4 linked regions of the Homo sapiens genome follow. The protein of the gene in region 1 interacts with the protein of each later gene in a pairwise test. Each region holds a gene or a part of one and is shown on either strand. Other genes may lie near its edges.

Region 1 (4,877 bases):
TGCAGTGCATACATTATCAAGATGAATGATGGAAGCTGTAATCACATGACCTGTGCAGTGTGTGGCTGTGAATTCTGTTGGCTTTGTATGAAAGAGATCTCAGACTTGCATTACCTCAGGTAAGATGGGAAATGCATCCATTCCTTTCGTAGTCTCATTCTCTTACTGATTTAGGGAAAAGGATGTCAAAAAGACACATCCGTTCTCTCATTACAGGTTTAAGGAAGCTGTGAAAACTTCTTCTGACATGCTCCTCTAATCATGTTTTCACCAGCTACTATTCTGTTTCTACCTTTCTTTGCTTGCCATATTACAGGTAGTCTGGACTTGCTTTTTCCCTTTTGCTGTCTTGCCTCCATACTTGTTCATGTTCTTTCCTTTGCCTAGAATGCTTTCTGCCTACCTTCCAGTATCCTCCTTTTATCTCAACTTGTTCAGTTCTTATCTTTTAAGAGCCACTTAAATGCCTTTCATCCATGTTGCCTCTCCTTTTTCCGCCTCATTCTTTGACTTTCTTTTATCTTTTGTCATAAATATCGTCAGTACTTTACACTTCACGTACCTATCTTATCTTACTAAACTGTAAGTATCTTGAGGCTAGAGTTGTGACCTTTTTACAGTTTTTTGCATTTAGTGAGTTCCCAAGGAATTCATTAAGTGAATTCTTTTTTTTTTTTTTTTTAAGACAGAGTTTCTCTCTGTCGCCCAGGCTGGAGTGCAGTGGCTCGATCTCGACTCACTGCAACCTCCACCTCCCAGGTTCAAGTGATTGTCCTGCCTCAGCCTCCTAAGTAGCTGGGATTACAGGCACCTGCCACCATGCCCAGCTAATTTTTGTATTTTTAGTGGAGGCGGGGTTTCACCATGTTAGCCAGCCTGGTCTCGAACTCGAACCTCAGGTGGTCCGCCTGCCTCGGCCTCCCAAAGTTCTGGGATTACAAGCGCGAGCCACCGCGCCCAGCCTCATTGAGTGAATATTAAAATGTTGTGGAGGAGTTAATATTTACAAACAAAATGTTTGCTAATATTTACAAATAAACAAAATGTGTTAATATTTACAAACAAACATTCATTGTGTAAATGAAACACAACACCTTCATTGCCAATTTGTCGAACATTTGAGTACTTACTGTGTGCTAGTCATTGGGGACATAGGGGTGAGTAAGACATGATCCCTATTTTCAAAATTGTTTATCCCTTCTAGTGGAGAAGATAGCACAAAGAGAATGGGCAAAAATGGTTGGGCACAGAAGGGCTGACTGTAAAAGTAGCCAAACTCAGAATACCAAACTGATAGAAAGGTTATGATGAGGTCTTTTTATATCCTCTCCCACGAACATGGTTTGCAGTATCTATTAGGTATGGTAGGACATATGCCAAGAAAACTACACAAATCAGAGTGTTCATTAGTGCAGGGTGCAGTGTGTCTGGATGGGATGTCAAGTGCATAAGGCTATGCAGCATCCCAAGTATTGTCAGTCATGGAAGCTAGATCAGTTTTGGTGGGTTAGGGAAGACAGAATTCAGCAGAGAAGAATGGAAAAGGAATTTCAAGTCTGGAAGCCTGTCTTTACAACAACAACCAAAAAAGTTAAAGAGCCCAGAGCTCTAATAGTCTGGCCTTGTCCTTTGCTCTCCCTTGTGTAATGTATTCATTTCCCATAAACTCTTCTGTTAATCCTTACTGAAAAGAAGGCTGTTGCTGTTATCAAGCCCTATGATAATACTAGCTGTATTTGTAATGTTGACATTAACTTCAGTCTGTTTCCCCTGCAGCCCCTCTGGCTGTACATTCTGGGGCAAGAAGCCATGGAGCCGTAAGAAGAAAATTCTTTGGCAGCTGGGCACGTTGATTGGTGCTCCAGTGGGGATTTCTCTCATTGCTGGCATTGCCATTCCTGCCATGGTCATTGGCATTCCTGTTTATGTTGGAAGGAAGGTAAGAAAGACATGCTGGTTTCTGTGCTTGTTTCAACTTTAGGTTCGTTAGTAAAGGTTTGAGGGAAATGGGAAGGAGCTATGTTTCAGAGCTGCCTGAAAACCAGCTGGTTCTTAGATAAAAATAACCTTACTTTCTTAAATGGATTTTCATAAACCCCCATGAGATCTGAAAGTTCTTATTAACATCCTGGGCCTGGCTTGTCTCAGTGACTTAAAGGTAGAATGCTGGGCCAGGCATGATGGTTCACATTTGTAATACGTGGCCTAGCACTTTGGGAAGCCAAGGCAGGTAGATCAGTTGAGCCCAGGTGTTTGAGACCAGCCTGGGCAACATGACAAAACCCATCTGTACCCAAAAAAATAGAAAAATTAGCTGGGTATGGTGGCATGTGCCTACAGTCCCAGCTACTAGGGAGGCTGAGGTGGGAGGATTGCTTGAGCCCAGGGACGTAGAGGTTGCAGTGAGCCAAGATCGCACCACTGCACTCCAGCCTGCATGACAGACTCCAAAAAAAAAAATAAAAGAAGAAGGTAAAATGCTTACTTCATTCTGCTGGAGTTATTTTGTCTCTTTTTGGATTAACTTTGCCTGTATTACTTTATATCTTCCAGGTCTGAGTTAGGTTAAAATTTGATAAAGATGCCTATTTGGGGTAGAGGATATGTTTTAATATAGATAACTTACAAGTGAATATTCACCTGTCCTTTTTTTCTCTGGCAAAAGATTGATGTCCTAACCTGCTGACCTGGATTTTCTTTTTTTATTCTTAGATTCACAGCAGGTATGAGGGAAGGAAAACCTCCAAACACAAGAGGAATTTGGCTATCACTGGAGGAGTGACTTTGTCGGTCATTGCATCCCCAGTTATTGCTGCAGTTAGTGTTGGTAAGCTAGTCAGGACCACACCTCTTCTCTCTCAGCTTTCTGACCATAGCAGTTTAGCCAGATGGCCAGATGTTTCTCAAAGACTCCTACATTTTATGCGAACCCACCTTGATAGTAAATTCTGTTAGGCACCATGATTATGATTATTTTTAAGTTTTTCAAGCACACCAAATTATCAGAGTGTGCAATCTTTTGTTCTTAAGTTAGTGCCTAGAACTCCATTTGGCACATAGAAAAGGTTGAATTACAGAAACTTATTTTAAGCCCTAGTTTTCACCTTTCATCTTCCTTCTCTACTTGCCATGAAATCCACAAAACAAAATTACTTTTGTTTTGATTTGTTTAATGCTTCACATTACTTTGGGAGGCATAAGAGTTTGTTTTAGAATAATAATAGTGTAACTAACATTTAATGTGGCTCTTCATGTGCCAGGAGTGGTTCTGAGACTTTTGCATATATTAATTTATTTAATCCTCACAATCCTTACAAAAGGAAGCACAATTTTAATAGAAAGGTGCAGTAATTGGCTGGGCGCAGTGGCTCACGCCTGTAATTCCAGTGTTTTGGGAGGCCGAGGCGGGCGGATCACGAGGTCAGGAGATCGAGACCATCCTGGCTAACACGGTGAAACCCCATCTCTACTAAAAATACAGAAAATCAGCCGGGTGTGGTAGCGGGTGCCTGTAGTCCCAGCTACTTGGGAGGCTGAGGCAGGAGAATGGCGTGAACCTGGGAGGCGGAGCTTGCAGTGAGCCGAGATCGTGCCACTGCACTCCAGCCTGGGCAACAGAGTGAGACTCCGTCTCAAAAAAAAAAAAGAAAGGTGCAGTAATTTTCCCAAGGTCACTTAGCTGGGACATGAATCAAGTTAATCTGCCTTCAGATCCTGTTCTCTTAACAGCTAAGCCATTCTACCTCACACAGCAGTAAGATTTTGGAATTAACATCCTGAGGAGATCCTAAACTCCAAGCAGTAGTCACTTATTTAATATTTGATTCTTGATTGGCTCTTGATTGGGTTAGCATTTCAGCAGTGATTAGAAGAGGGGAAAATGAAAGCAACATATATTTACTGTGCAAAACACAGTACATAGCATTCTCATTTGATTATTGACAACCCTGGGAAGATAGGTCCAAGGTTATACAGCTAGTAAATGGAGCCAAGAATCTAATCCAGACCTTTCTGATTTCTAGCCTGGTCATCATTCTGTTACACCAGGCCACCTTTTTGGGATAGCCACTTTCTGTCTTCCTTTCTTTATAAAGTGGTTTGTCCATGCCCAGACTGGGAAGAAGAATTCAGGGCACTTGCAACCTAATAGCCAGCTGACATGTTTCCTTCTCTTCCCCCAGGTATTGGTGTCCCCATTATGCTGGCATATGTTTATGGGGTTGTGCCCATTTCTCTTTGTCGTGGAGGCGGCTGTGGAGTTAGCACAGCCAACGGAAAAGGAGTGAAAATTGAATTTGATGAAGATGATGGTCCAATCACAGGTAAAAAGCAGGATGTTTATTTCCATTTGAATTTATGATATACAAGATAAAAATCAGTAAAATTCAGCGCATTTTACAGGGAGATTGTCATTGGATTACTTTGGATAATGAGCTTTGTAGGGGGTAAAGTATTTTTAGCTTTTCATTTCTTTGTTCCAAAGTTATTAGGTTAATTCCCCTGGTACTTGCCTCTGTGTGGCAGGTACAAACTAGTAGGAATCCAAGTAACTCCAAGTATGCTGGTAGTAGTAGTGATTATAATAACATCTTTATATCTGCACAGTACTTGATAATTTTCAGAGTATTTTACACAATTATCTCACTTGCTTTTTACAACAAACAGCTCTCTGACGAGGGAGGATGGAGCTGTTATCCCCATTTAAATGGGAATTTCTTTTTTTTTTTTTGAGACGGAGTCTCTGTCACCCAGGCTGGAGTACGATGTCGCGATCTCGGTTCACTGCAACCTCCGCCTCCCAGGTTCAAGTGATTCTCCTGCCTCAGCCTCCTGAGTAGCTGGGACTACAGCAACGTGCCACCACGCCTGGCTAATTT
Region 2 (2,908 bases), on another chromosome or scaffold:
ACAAGTTGTTGTAATGATTAAATGAGTTAAATTCTATAAAGCAAACAGAACAGTACCTAGTACACACAGTAGACATACATGTTTTAGCTATTTCTATTGTTCCTCCTGTTCAAAAATCTATAACAATGAAATACTTTTCTTTATTCTATATGCATAGCTAACACAGAAAAGCACAAGTCTCAAAACTGTAACCTAAACCAGTAACAACCTCATGGCTCTTACTTTTTTCTTCCTGTAACTATGCCTGATTTTATTTTCATTTTACAATGTTTTCCATCTCAAGTCACCCAATCTCAGAGCCATTTCTCCTAGTCAAGACAAAATATAAGGATTTCCTAATTTATATACCACAGAGCTCCTGCTTGAAATGATAAATACCAATGCTCATTCGATTTTATAAAAAATTAGCAGTTAGCTGATCTCAACTTTTCAAATGGACCCTTTTTCTATTTAAAATATATCCAGGATTAGGCAGAAAGGTACAAGCTTTACATTATTTAGTATATGAGGCACTACAGCAACAGAGGCCTCCAGCACTGTCACAGAAGTGTTGCAGTGGTGCCCTCTTACGGCCGTTCATGGATAATACTTATCATAGGGTCCTTGATTTCTGACCCCCAAAAAATCCTGTAAGCTATTAGAGTCCATTAATTTTTAGTAAAATTCTTGGTTACTGTTATTTCCTTTAAATGCAATCATCAAATTAACTTGATTAAAAATTCAGAGTCTGGAGTTAGACCTTGGTTAAAATCTAGACCCTGCCACAGTTTAGCTACATGATCTTGCATAAAATACTTAATCTATATGAGCCTCAATTTCCTCTCATGAAATATAGGATTACTAGTATCCACCTTATAAAAGTTAATTAAATGAGAGTACACTAAAAGCATAGTGACTAAAACAGTAGATTCAGTGTATTAGATATTATGATTATTAAAATATTGACATCATTACTCATAAAAATCTTAAGAAAGACCTGAGCACTCTTATTTATGCCTGTAATGCCCCTACTTCCAGGCAGTAACAATTACACTTCAGAGTTTAAAATAGGTTTCCTTTCCCATGTTAAATATAAGAAGTGACTTTTTTTTCCATTGATAATAGTGAAAACTAATAGCTAACATTTACTGAGTATTACTGTCCATTTCAAGCATGTTTTATTAAACTCTATAGACAAGGAAGTGAAAACAAAGAGAAGTCAAGTAACTTGCAGAGTCTGCATTTTCCATTACCAGCCTTCCACCCTTCCAAGATTACTTTTTATAACCTCCCCAACTTTTAGAACTTTTGGACCTGGGATTCAATTTATTTACCTATATTACAAAAACTCTTAACTCCTAGCCACCTCCACAGATTTCCAATATTCTAATCTCTGCTCTCTCCTGTCCAGATCTATTGTATTCAATATATGCTATGTTTAAGGTCCTATGGAAAATCAAAAATGAAAATGACAGTTATTGCCTCAAGTAATTAATAATCTAACAGGAGCAATGCCATAAAAAATGGAGGCGGGAAAAGGGATGACAGGACAGGGATATTACACAAATTCAATCATGCAATTGTAGGACGGTGCTATGGTTTGAATATCTGTCCCTTCCAAAACTCATTTTGAAAATCCCCAATGTGGCAGTATAAAGGTGGGGCCTTTAAGAGGTGACTGGGTCATAAGGGTTCCGCCCTCATGAAACAATTAAAATCTATTCATGGATACTCCCAGGCACAGTGGCTCACACCTGTAATCCCAGCACTTTGGGAGGCAGAGGTGGGCAGATCACGAGATCAGAAGATCGAGACCATCCTGGCCAACATGGTGAAACTCCATCTCTACTAAAAATACCAAAAAAATTAGCTGAGTATGGTGGTGTGTGCCTGTAGTCCCAGCTACTCAGGAGGCTGAGGCAGGAGAATCGCTTGAACCCAGGAGGCAGAGGTTGCAGCGAGTCGAGATCGCGTCACTACACTCCAGCCTGGCAACAGAGCAAGACTCCGTCTCAAAAAAAAAAAAAAAAAAAAAAAAAGAACATTATGGAAGCATGCTCTAGATATTTTTAGTAAATAAAATAGGCCCTCACCACTGCTGCAAAAGCGTTTTATTAATCTTCAGTTGATTTTTGTATTCTTTAGAACTGTTTTTAATCTTTTCTAGTTTTTTTGGCCCCTAACTCCAGCCTTTTTCACTCCTAAATAATCTCATATTATTGAAAAGAAACAGGCAATTATCCAATGTGAGTTTTCACTCCACCTAAAAACCTTTCTGTCTTCACCCTTCTTACCTTTTGCTTTTGCAGAAATAAGTGCCCTGCCTCCTTACCAATGCTTAACGTCCATATACTGCTTATGATCATATTGTCTCCTGAGGATCTTAAATATCTGTTCTTTTGTGTCTTTCCTATGCTTGGTCTCCAAATAAGTTCTGTGCCCTTACCGTAATAACAATCATCTGCCTATCCTACTGCTTATCCTCAGGTTAAATTTGCAAAAGAATCATTTATACTTTCGACCTCCGCTTCTTTCTCACCCACTAATTCCTTATAAATTTATCTTCTTACTCAACCACCATACTAAAGCCGCTTACACAATGCCACGAATAACCTCCTAGCCATCAAATCCAAGCACCTTTTCTCACTCTGTATCCCTCTTCAACTGTCTGCGGCATGTCAGTTTGTTACCTCCTTCTTCTTCCTTCTATAAAGTCACCTTTTATGACATACTATTCTTTTCATTCTGCCTCTCTGATAATTCACTAAACACTCCTACCACTTGTACTCCCCTGAAGTTTTTGTCTCATCTCTCCTTTACCTCTTTACTCTCTCTTCAGACAAGCATTTACTGTGATGACTTTATCACCTTTCTCATTCTTGCCCTGACCATCAAACCCAAATTGCCAACAGCCCACTCAACATGGCCA
Region 3 (3,500 bases), on another chromosome or scaffold:
GTGATGTTGAGCATTTTTTCATATGTTTGTTAGCTGTTTGTATTTCTTCTTCTGAGAAATGTCTGTTCATGTTCTTTGCCCCATTTTCAATTGGTTTGTTTTATGTTTGTTGAGTTGTTTGAATTTCTTGTAGATTCTGAATACTAATTCTTTGTTGGAGGTATAATTTGTAAATATTTTCTCCCATTCTGTGAGTTGTCTTTTTATCCTATTGATTATTTGTTTTGCTGTGCAGAAACTTTTAGTTTATGTCCTATTTCTCTATCTTCGTTTTTTATTGCGTTTGTGTTTGGAATCTTCATCATAAATTATTTGCCTAAGCCGATGTCCATAAGGAGTTTTCCTAGGTTTTCTTTTAGGATTTTTATAGTTTCAGTTTTGATAGTTTTACATTTAGGTCTTTAATCCATCTATAGTTAATTTTGTATATGTTAAGAGATGGGGAATTAGTTTCAGTCTTCTGCATATGGCTAGCCAGTTTTTCCAGCATCATTTATTGAATAGGGTGTCTATTTCCCATTGTTTATTTCTGTTGACTTTAATCGAAGATCAATTGGTTGTATATATGTAGCTTTATTTCTAGGTTAGAGAACCCCATACTGTACCATTAATCTCTGGGTTTATTTTTGTACTAGTACCATGCGATTTTAGTTACTATAGCCTTGTAGTATAATTTGAAGTCAGGCAATATAATGCCTCTGACTCTGTTCTTTTTGCTTGGGAGTTCCTTGGCTATTTGGGCTTTTTTTGGTTCCCTATGAACTTTAGGACTGTTTTTCCTAATTCTGTGAAAAACAAGGCTGGTAATTGGATAGGGATTGCATTGAATCTGTAGATTGCTTGGGTAATATGGTTATTTTAACCATATTAATTCTTCCAATTCATAGCATGGAATGTTTTTCCATTTATTTGTGTCATCTACAATTTCTTTCATCAGTGTTTTGTAGTTCTCCTTGTAGAGATCTTTCACCTCCTTGGTTAAATGTGTTCTGAAGTATTTTGGTCTTTTTCGTGGCTATCCTAAGTGGGATTGGATTCTTAATTTGGTTCTCAGCTTCAATGTTACTGTTTATAGAAATGCTACTGATTTTTGTACATTGATTTTGTATCCTGAGACTTTACTGAAGTTGTTAATCAGGCCAAGGAGTCTTCTAGAGGAGTCTTTAGGGTTTTCTAGGTATACAATCATATTGTCAGTGAACAGAGATAATTTGACTTCTACTTTTCCAATTCAGATGCCTTTTATTTTTTTCTCTTGCCTGATAGCTCTGGCCAGGACTTCCAGTACTATGTTGAATAGGAGTTATCTTGGTTTCTAACTTGAAACGTTATATAAATGTATGTATTTTTTGTGGTCTTTCAAACAATGCCACTTACATTGTGAATGCTCAGTAATGCAGATAGAAAATACAAATTAGGAAGAAGCTTGTGGCGGATAAAACACTTGCTTAGTATTATTGGTAAAGGAATTTTATTTTGATTAGGCTGCACTAAAATTAATTTCTTTTGAGTTCAAATCAACATTGTATGGCTGTAGAATTTTATTAGATAATGTTTTGGGAAATGCAATTTTGTTTCAGCAATTAATGTAACTTCCTTTTATGTGGCTTGACCATAATGGAACTGAGTTTATGTGTGGGTTACAGAATCAGTTCATTATTTTATAAAATAGTGCTACTTGCTTGCTGTTGTTAAAAAAATACTTTCTGTCAGAAGTGGACTTTTGCTAAAACATCTATACCTTTCCCCTCTTTAGCAATAACATGTATTTGTGAATGGAGGGGTGAGACTACGGATATAACTTGTAGTTTAGGGAGGGAAGCTAAAGAAATGAAATGGGGTTATGATAAGACTGGTTATTACATCACAAGTCCAGCAAATTTAACATTCAATTCAGATGATATTTTAAAATTACTTTGTCTATTTTAAAACTTTTATAAGCATAACTATTTTCATTTTATAAGTGAAGTTTAGCAAAAACCAAGAAGACAAATGTAGAACCAGATTTTCGAGTTTTACCTTCATCGATGAACTTTGGGGCTTGACTATTCCTTAGCCATCAAGTTGAATTTCCTAATTTTAAAATGAAGAATGCAATTCTAGAAACTATTACTTGTACAAGGTCATGTCAGTCATATTCATGTTTTATACCATTTGATTCTCTGTTACAGGCATAATAGGAAATAAAATATGTGTATGTTGCTTCACTGCCTTTCTGTTCTTCATCCTCACTCCAAATGGCCAGAACCTCTTATTTCTTGTTTTCTGTGGTTCTTCGCCCAGACATAATCCCCTCACCCAAACAGAACACCATCCTGTTGCTCTACTATGGATAGTTCACTGGACATTTTCAAAAAGATATCCTTGAAAGACAAGGTTTTAAGCAAGGGAACAAATGTCTTATAATGAGAATTTTAGACATGACACAAGGATAGTGGGAGAGTTGTTCAAATTTCAGCAGTAATTTTCTCTTCTACTTAGCTCTGGGATTGGCTTAGGCCAGACCAGGTTGGTCTTTCTGCTAAATTCTGACATCTTGTCAGTGGACATTACTACTTGGGTATTTAATTGCCATTGAAAGCTCAGTATACCTCAATCTGAATGAATCACCATTTGTTTTATACCGACTCTTCCACTGAACTTCATTCTTTCAATGATAACATTAATCTGTTGGTTACAAGTGTTTGAAACTTGGGGTAAATTTTGAGTATTTCATTTCCCAAACTTTACATCCAAGTAGTCACTTGTGTATGTATTTGGTTTCCCTCTCTAGATGATAAGCCTCTTGAAAGGAAAGTTGAATTTTGTTTTTACCCCCAGCCCCACTAATACTTAGTGTCTGTGAAGTAGGTGGTCAGTAAATAGTCACTAAGTGAGTGTTAATTAAAACAGAAGGTGTAGTTGTCATTAATGTAAAGGAGGTGATTTAAATAAGGTGTTTCAAGTCATAAACAAGTAACGGAAGGAAACCTTGCATGATGTTTACTTTTTATTTGATTGTTCTTTCCTGAAATCTAAGTACATTGTTATTCTACTGTTCTATTCATAACTTTCAAGGCCTGCCTGGGCCTGTTGCAGAAAATAATGCTAGGAGAGGGTTCAAAACCTCATTAATGTACTTCACCAACTCAAAGTGCAAGGGAACAGTTTGTCATCAGGAAGATGAAGTAATGAAAGAATTATAAAAACACCTGGCACCATTCTATTATTGTAAATGCAAACTGACCATTTGAAAAGAAAAAAAATTTTGTGTTTGTTAATGCATCTGTTGCCTTTAGTTCAGAAGCAAAATTTCAGCAGTATACAAGGAGTTACCCTAATTTTCAGCTTTGTCCCTTGTAACATAAATTTTAAAAAATAATCTTTGCAAAAGTTACCCTAGCAAATGGCTAGAAAATACGAGAATAAATGATGCAAATTTGTCCTAATAATCTGTTAAACTTAAGGCATTATTAAGCAATCAAAAGTGTAAAATAAGCTTAAAATCTTCTTCACAGCTA
Region 4 (4,282 bases), on another chromosome or scaffold:
GGGGAGATTTCCCAAATTATAAGTGGTTTCACTGTGTCTTTCTTACCAGGCCGTAAGTTACTCTGGCCCCAAAGGACGCTCCTCTGAGTATGCTTTCCGACGGACCGACTTATCATGAATAGAGGGTCAAAGAACAGGGTTAACTTCAAGTTAGAGGCTATTCCTCTCTAACAAAGCCGCCCCCAAGCCACGAGTGGTGGCAGTAGTCCAGAGCAGAAGCCAGCCAGCCAGTCTTGGGGCTGCCATCTGCCCCAGGCGCCCATCCTAAGCAAAGTCCCCCCAGTGGGCACATGGGAGTGGGCAGGGAAGACACAGGGAAGGGAGTAAGGCAGCATCTGGGCCAAGGAGAGGCCTTCCTGGGTCAAGCTAGGGAAGGGCATCACTAGTTAACACAGAACGCCCATTATCAGTGCTTGGGCTAAGAGTTGCCCAGTGGCAAGTTTATCAAAAGTCTGTGTGATGAGTTGGTCCTTCTCAATAAGTGCCTATATTTCCTTCTCCCAAGTGCTGTTCTACTTCACCCAGGGCACCATTTCCTCATCTCTTTGCACCATCCCCAACCCCCTTTCTTGATTTAACCAGCCCCCACTGTCCGGGACCAGAGTGAAAGCGAAAGCGCTTTAGAGTAGCTTCCCGTTGACGCTTCCAGCTAAGAGTCAAAGCACCCGCTTTTTCCACCAGCCTCGCGTGCCTGTTCCCTTCACGGACACTCTAGACGACCCCCCTCAGAAAAGAAATACTCTATGCTCATTGCGGGTTGCAAGCGCTGGCTGCTACAGGCGACCTCCCTGCGCTCCCGTTGGTCTCTGCATTCACTTCTCCGCGCGCGCTTCCAGGGTCCCCTGGCCGCTGCATCTCCTCCACCCCTCTGCCAACCCTCAAGCCCAGACCCATTACCCCGGTGTGGACTTCTCCCGCCCGGGGTAAGTCCCCGGTTGGTGCTCCCGCCCGCAGCATCCCTGCAAGGCACCGCTCTCCTCGCCGCCTGGGGCACTGGTTTCCAACCTGGGACAGCGCACAACGCGCAGCCGACAGCCCCGCCCCTTCGCGGCGCCGCCAGGAGGCGCCTGGGTGCTGCGGGGCTGCTTTGCGCGCGGCGCTAACGTGTGTAGGGCAGATCTGCCCCGAGACAAGTGACGAGGCAGCCCCGCCCTGAGGCTGGGGTGGGAAAACTGGTGCAAGTGGAAAGGCAGGAGGCAGGGAGAGGCGAGAAGGGTGTGCGTGATGGAGAAAATTGGGCACCAGGGCTGCTCCCGAGATTCTCAGATCTGATTTCCACGCTTGCTACCAAAATAGTCTGGGCAGGCCACTTTTGGAAGTAGGCGTTATCTAGTGAGCAGGCGGCCGCTTTCGATTTCGCTTTCCCCTAAATGGCTGAGCTTCTCGCCAGCGCAGGATCAGCCTGTTCCTGGGACTTTCCGAGAGCCCCGCCCTCGTTCCCTCCCCCAGCCGCCAGTAGGGGAGGACTCGGCGGTACCCGGAGCTTCAGGCCCCACCGGGGCGCGGAGAGTCCCAGGCCCGGCCGGGACCGGGACGGCGTCCGAGTGCCAATGGCTAGCTCTAGGTGTCCCGCTCCCCGCGGGTGCCGCTGCCTCCCCGGAGCTTCTCTCGCATGGCTGGGGACAGTACTGCTACTTCTCGCCGACTGGGTGCTGCTCCGGACCGCGCTGCCCCGCATATTCTCCCTGCTGGTGCCCACCGCGCTGCCACTGCTCCGGGTCTGGGCGGTGGGCCTGAGCCGCTGGGCCGTGCTCTGGCTGGGGGCCTGCGGGGTCCTCAGGGCAACGGTTGGCTCCAAGAGCGAAAACGCAGGTGCCCAGGGCTGGCTGGCTGCTTTGAAGCCATTAGCTGCGGCACTGGGCTTGGCCCTGCCGGGACTTGCCTTGTTCCGAGAGCTGATCTCATGGGGAGCCCCCGGGTCCGCGGATAGCACCAGGCTACTGCACTGGGGAAGTCACCCTACCGCCTTCGTTGTCAGTTATGCAGCGGCACTGCCCGCAGCAGCCCTGTGGCACAAACTCGGGAGCCTCTGGGTGCCCGGCGGTCAGGGCGGCTCTGGAAACCCTGTGCGTCGGCTTCTAGGCTGCCTGGGCTCGGAGACGCGCCGCCTCTCGCTGTTCCTGGTCCTGGTGGTCCTCTCCTCTCTTGGTAAGGGGAACGCAGGGCAAGAGGGGAGGACACAAGGGGACTGGGACAGGAATCAAAGGTAATTGTCAGTAAGGTAGAGTAGCGTGGGTTCTGGGAAATGTGGAGCAGGAGAAGGACTCCTAGCGTGGGTCTTGGAACACCACTTCGGTGTAGAAGAAACGGCACTGGACTGGCGGGGGCCAGAGGTTCTGGGCTCCATTGCTGACCGGGTCTTGATTCTTTGGGCCACGCCGGAAGCGGGGAAATCCTTTGCTCTGGGGCCGAAGGGCGGGGCATCCTCATCTCTAACAGGAGGCTTTTCTACTTCATGATCTCCAGCCTTCCTAATAAAATCCTGAAAGTTCTGGTAGAGCAACCACAGGGTAGTGAGTTCCAGGGCAGCCTATTTAGGTTCGGGATTGAGACGTCAGTGTTTCCTTTCTGCTGATGCCCTCCAGGATAATGGTGAGGGGGAGGAGGCGTGGTGGGGCCAGTCTGACTGGAACTGACCTACTTAGACTTAATATTTGTGCGTGACCTCTCTTCTCTTTCTCCAGGGGAGATGGCCATTCCATTCTTTACGGGCCGCCTCACTGACTGGATTCTACAAGATGGCTCAGCCGATACCTTCACTCGAAACTTAACTCTCATGTCCATTCTCACCATAGCCAGGTCTGGGGGCTGAAAATGGGGCACCCTGCAAATGAGGGAGTTGGAAGTTGGGGCTGCTGTCCGAAATGCACTTATATGGGGATACCTGGGACCTTCAGTCTGTTCCCTGAACACACCCTGATCCCCTTTTTTTCCGGGTTCTTTATAGTGCAGTGCTGGAGTTCGTGGGTGACGGGATCTATAACAACACCATGGGCCACGTGCACAGCCACTTGCAGGGAGAGGTGTTTGGGGCTGTCCTGCGCCAGGAGACGGAGTTTTTCCAACAGAACCAGACAGGTTTCTCCTGAAACTCTTTCATTATACGCCATGTACTGTTCATATCCTCATACATCTGCTTTGATCTCCCCCCTCCCCGCTCTCTCTCTCTCACACACACATACACACATTGTTCCTTCTCATTCTTGATATACCCTCTCCCTGTCTCTCTCTCTCTGTCTCTGTCTCTCTCTCTCTCTCTCTCACACACACACACACACAATTGTTTTTCTCATTCTTGATATACCTCAGGAGCAAAATATTGTCCTCCTTACCTTAAGAAAAACCTAGAGTTTTCATCTAGCATTTTCTTATAAATCTATTCCTATGTATCCTTAGATAGAAACCATAGAATTTCAAACCTGGAAATTTTGAGCTCATAGAGACCAACTGCCTCATCTGACAGAGAAGGAAACTGAGGCCAAGACCCTAAATGCTGAAACTGCACAGTTACATATGGCTAGAGACACACTTGGGGTTAGAACCCTGGTCTCTTGAGTGCTCCACAGACTTCGGCATGCTTTCTAGCAGCACTAGAAGCTGTACAGTTACATATGGCTAGAGATAGACCTGGGGTTAGAACCCTAGTCCCAGTGAGTGCTCCACAGACTTTGGCATGCTTCCTAGCAGCACCCTCCTCCTCCATCTCTGTTATGTGACCAGTTTAAGCTCTTCCTGCCTGTGTGTATAGCATGGGACATACAGGTTCTCTAGGGAACAGAAAGCTTTCAGGAAAATGGAAATTCACATGTGCATTAATGACTTTATAATTAAAATGAAGGTCAGGCCTTTCCTCTTTAACACTCATCTTCCCTGCACTGAGATTTGCAGACCTCTGGAGAACCCTAACCTTGTTTCCTGCAGCCTCCTTAGAACCCCATGTTGACACCCCTGACCCTGGCATCCTGGCTCATTGTTAGTTCGTCTCATCACTTGGAACCTGTCTGATTCACCTCACTCTCTTCTCCCCAACCCTGCAGGTAACATCATGTCTCGGGTAACAGAGGACACGTCCACCCTGAGTGATTCTCTGAGTGAGAATCTGAGCTTATTTCTGTGGTACCTGGTGCGAGGCCTATGTCTCTTGGGGATCATGCTCTGGGGATCAGTGTCCCTCACCATGGTCACCCTGATCACCCTGCCTCTGCTTTTCCTTCTGCCCAAGAAGGTGGGAAAATGGTACCAGGTATGTTCATGGAGTTGGCCCGCTCTACACAGACCCTCA

The links. Proteins that work in one complex are often made in the same cells at the same time.
Region 2: the proteins of RNF19B (region 1) and SEC23A interact in a two-hybrid assay, tested with the Homo sapiens proteins (one large-scale study listed by BioGRID and IntAct).
Region 3: the proteins of RNF19B (region 1) and BTG4 interact in a two-hybrid assay, tested with the Homo sapiens proteins (one study listed by BioGRID).
Region 4: the proteins of RNF19B (region 1) and TAP1 interact in binary tests that used the Homo sapiens proteins (3 or more experiments, as listed by UniProt).

What each region holds. Positions count from the first base shown.
Region 1 is NC_000001.11:32,943,464-32,948,340, reverse strand, and holds part of RNF19B (E3 ubiquitin-protein ligase RNF19B), read left to right. Parts: coding exon 1-119; intron 120-1,776; coding exon 1,777-1,939; intron 1,940-2,712; coding exon 2,713-2,827; intron 2,828-4,181; coding exon 4,182-4,322; intron 4,323-4,877.
Region 2 is NC_000014.9:39,034,328-39,037,235, forward strand, and holds part of SEC23A (protein transport protein Sec23A), read right to left. Parts: intron 1-2,908.
Region 3 is NC_000011.10:111,502,387-111,505,886, reverse strand, and holds part of BTG4 (protein BTG4), read left to right. Parts: intron 1-3,500. UniProt on the Homo sapiens protein: Adapter protein that bridges CNOT7, a catalytic subunit of the CCR4-NOT complex, to EIF4E.
Region 4 is NC_000006.12:32,850,905-32,855,186, reverse strand, and holds the start of TAP1 (antigen peptide transporter 1), read left to right. Parts: upstream 1-1,482; 5' UTR 1,483-1,550; coding exon 1,551-2,148; intron 2,149-2,425; exon of another isoform or gene 2,426-2,592; intron 2,593-2,684; coding exon 2,685-2,799; intron 2,800-2,947; coding exon 2,948-3,078; intron 3,079-4,037; coding exon 4,038-4,243; intron 4,244-4,282. Other genes in the region: PSMB9 (proteasome subunit beta type-9 precursor), read right to left, coding at 898-957. UniProt on the Homo sapiens protein: ABC transporter associated with antigen processing. In complex with TAP2 mediates unidirectional translocation of peptide antigens from cytosol to endoplasmic reticulum (ER) for loading onto MHC class I (MHCI) molecules.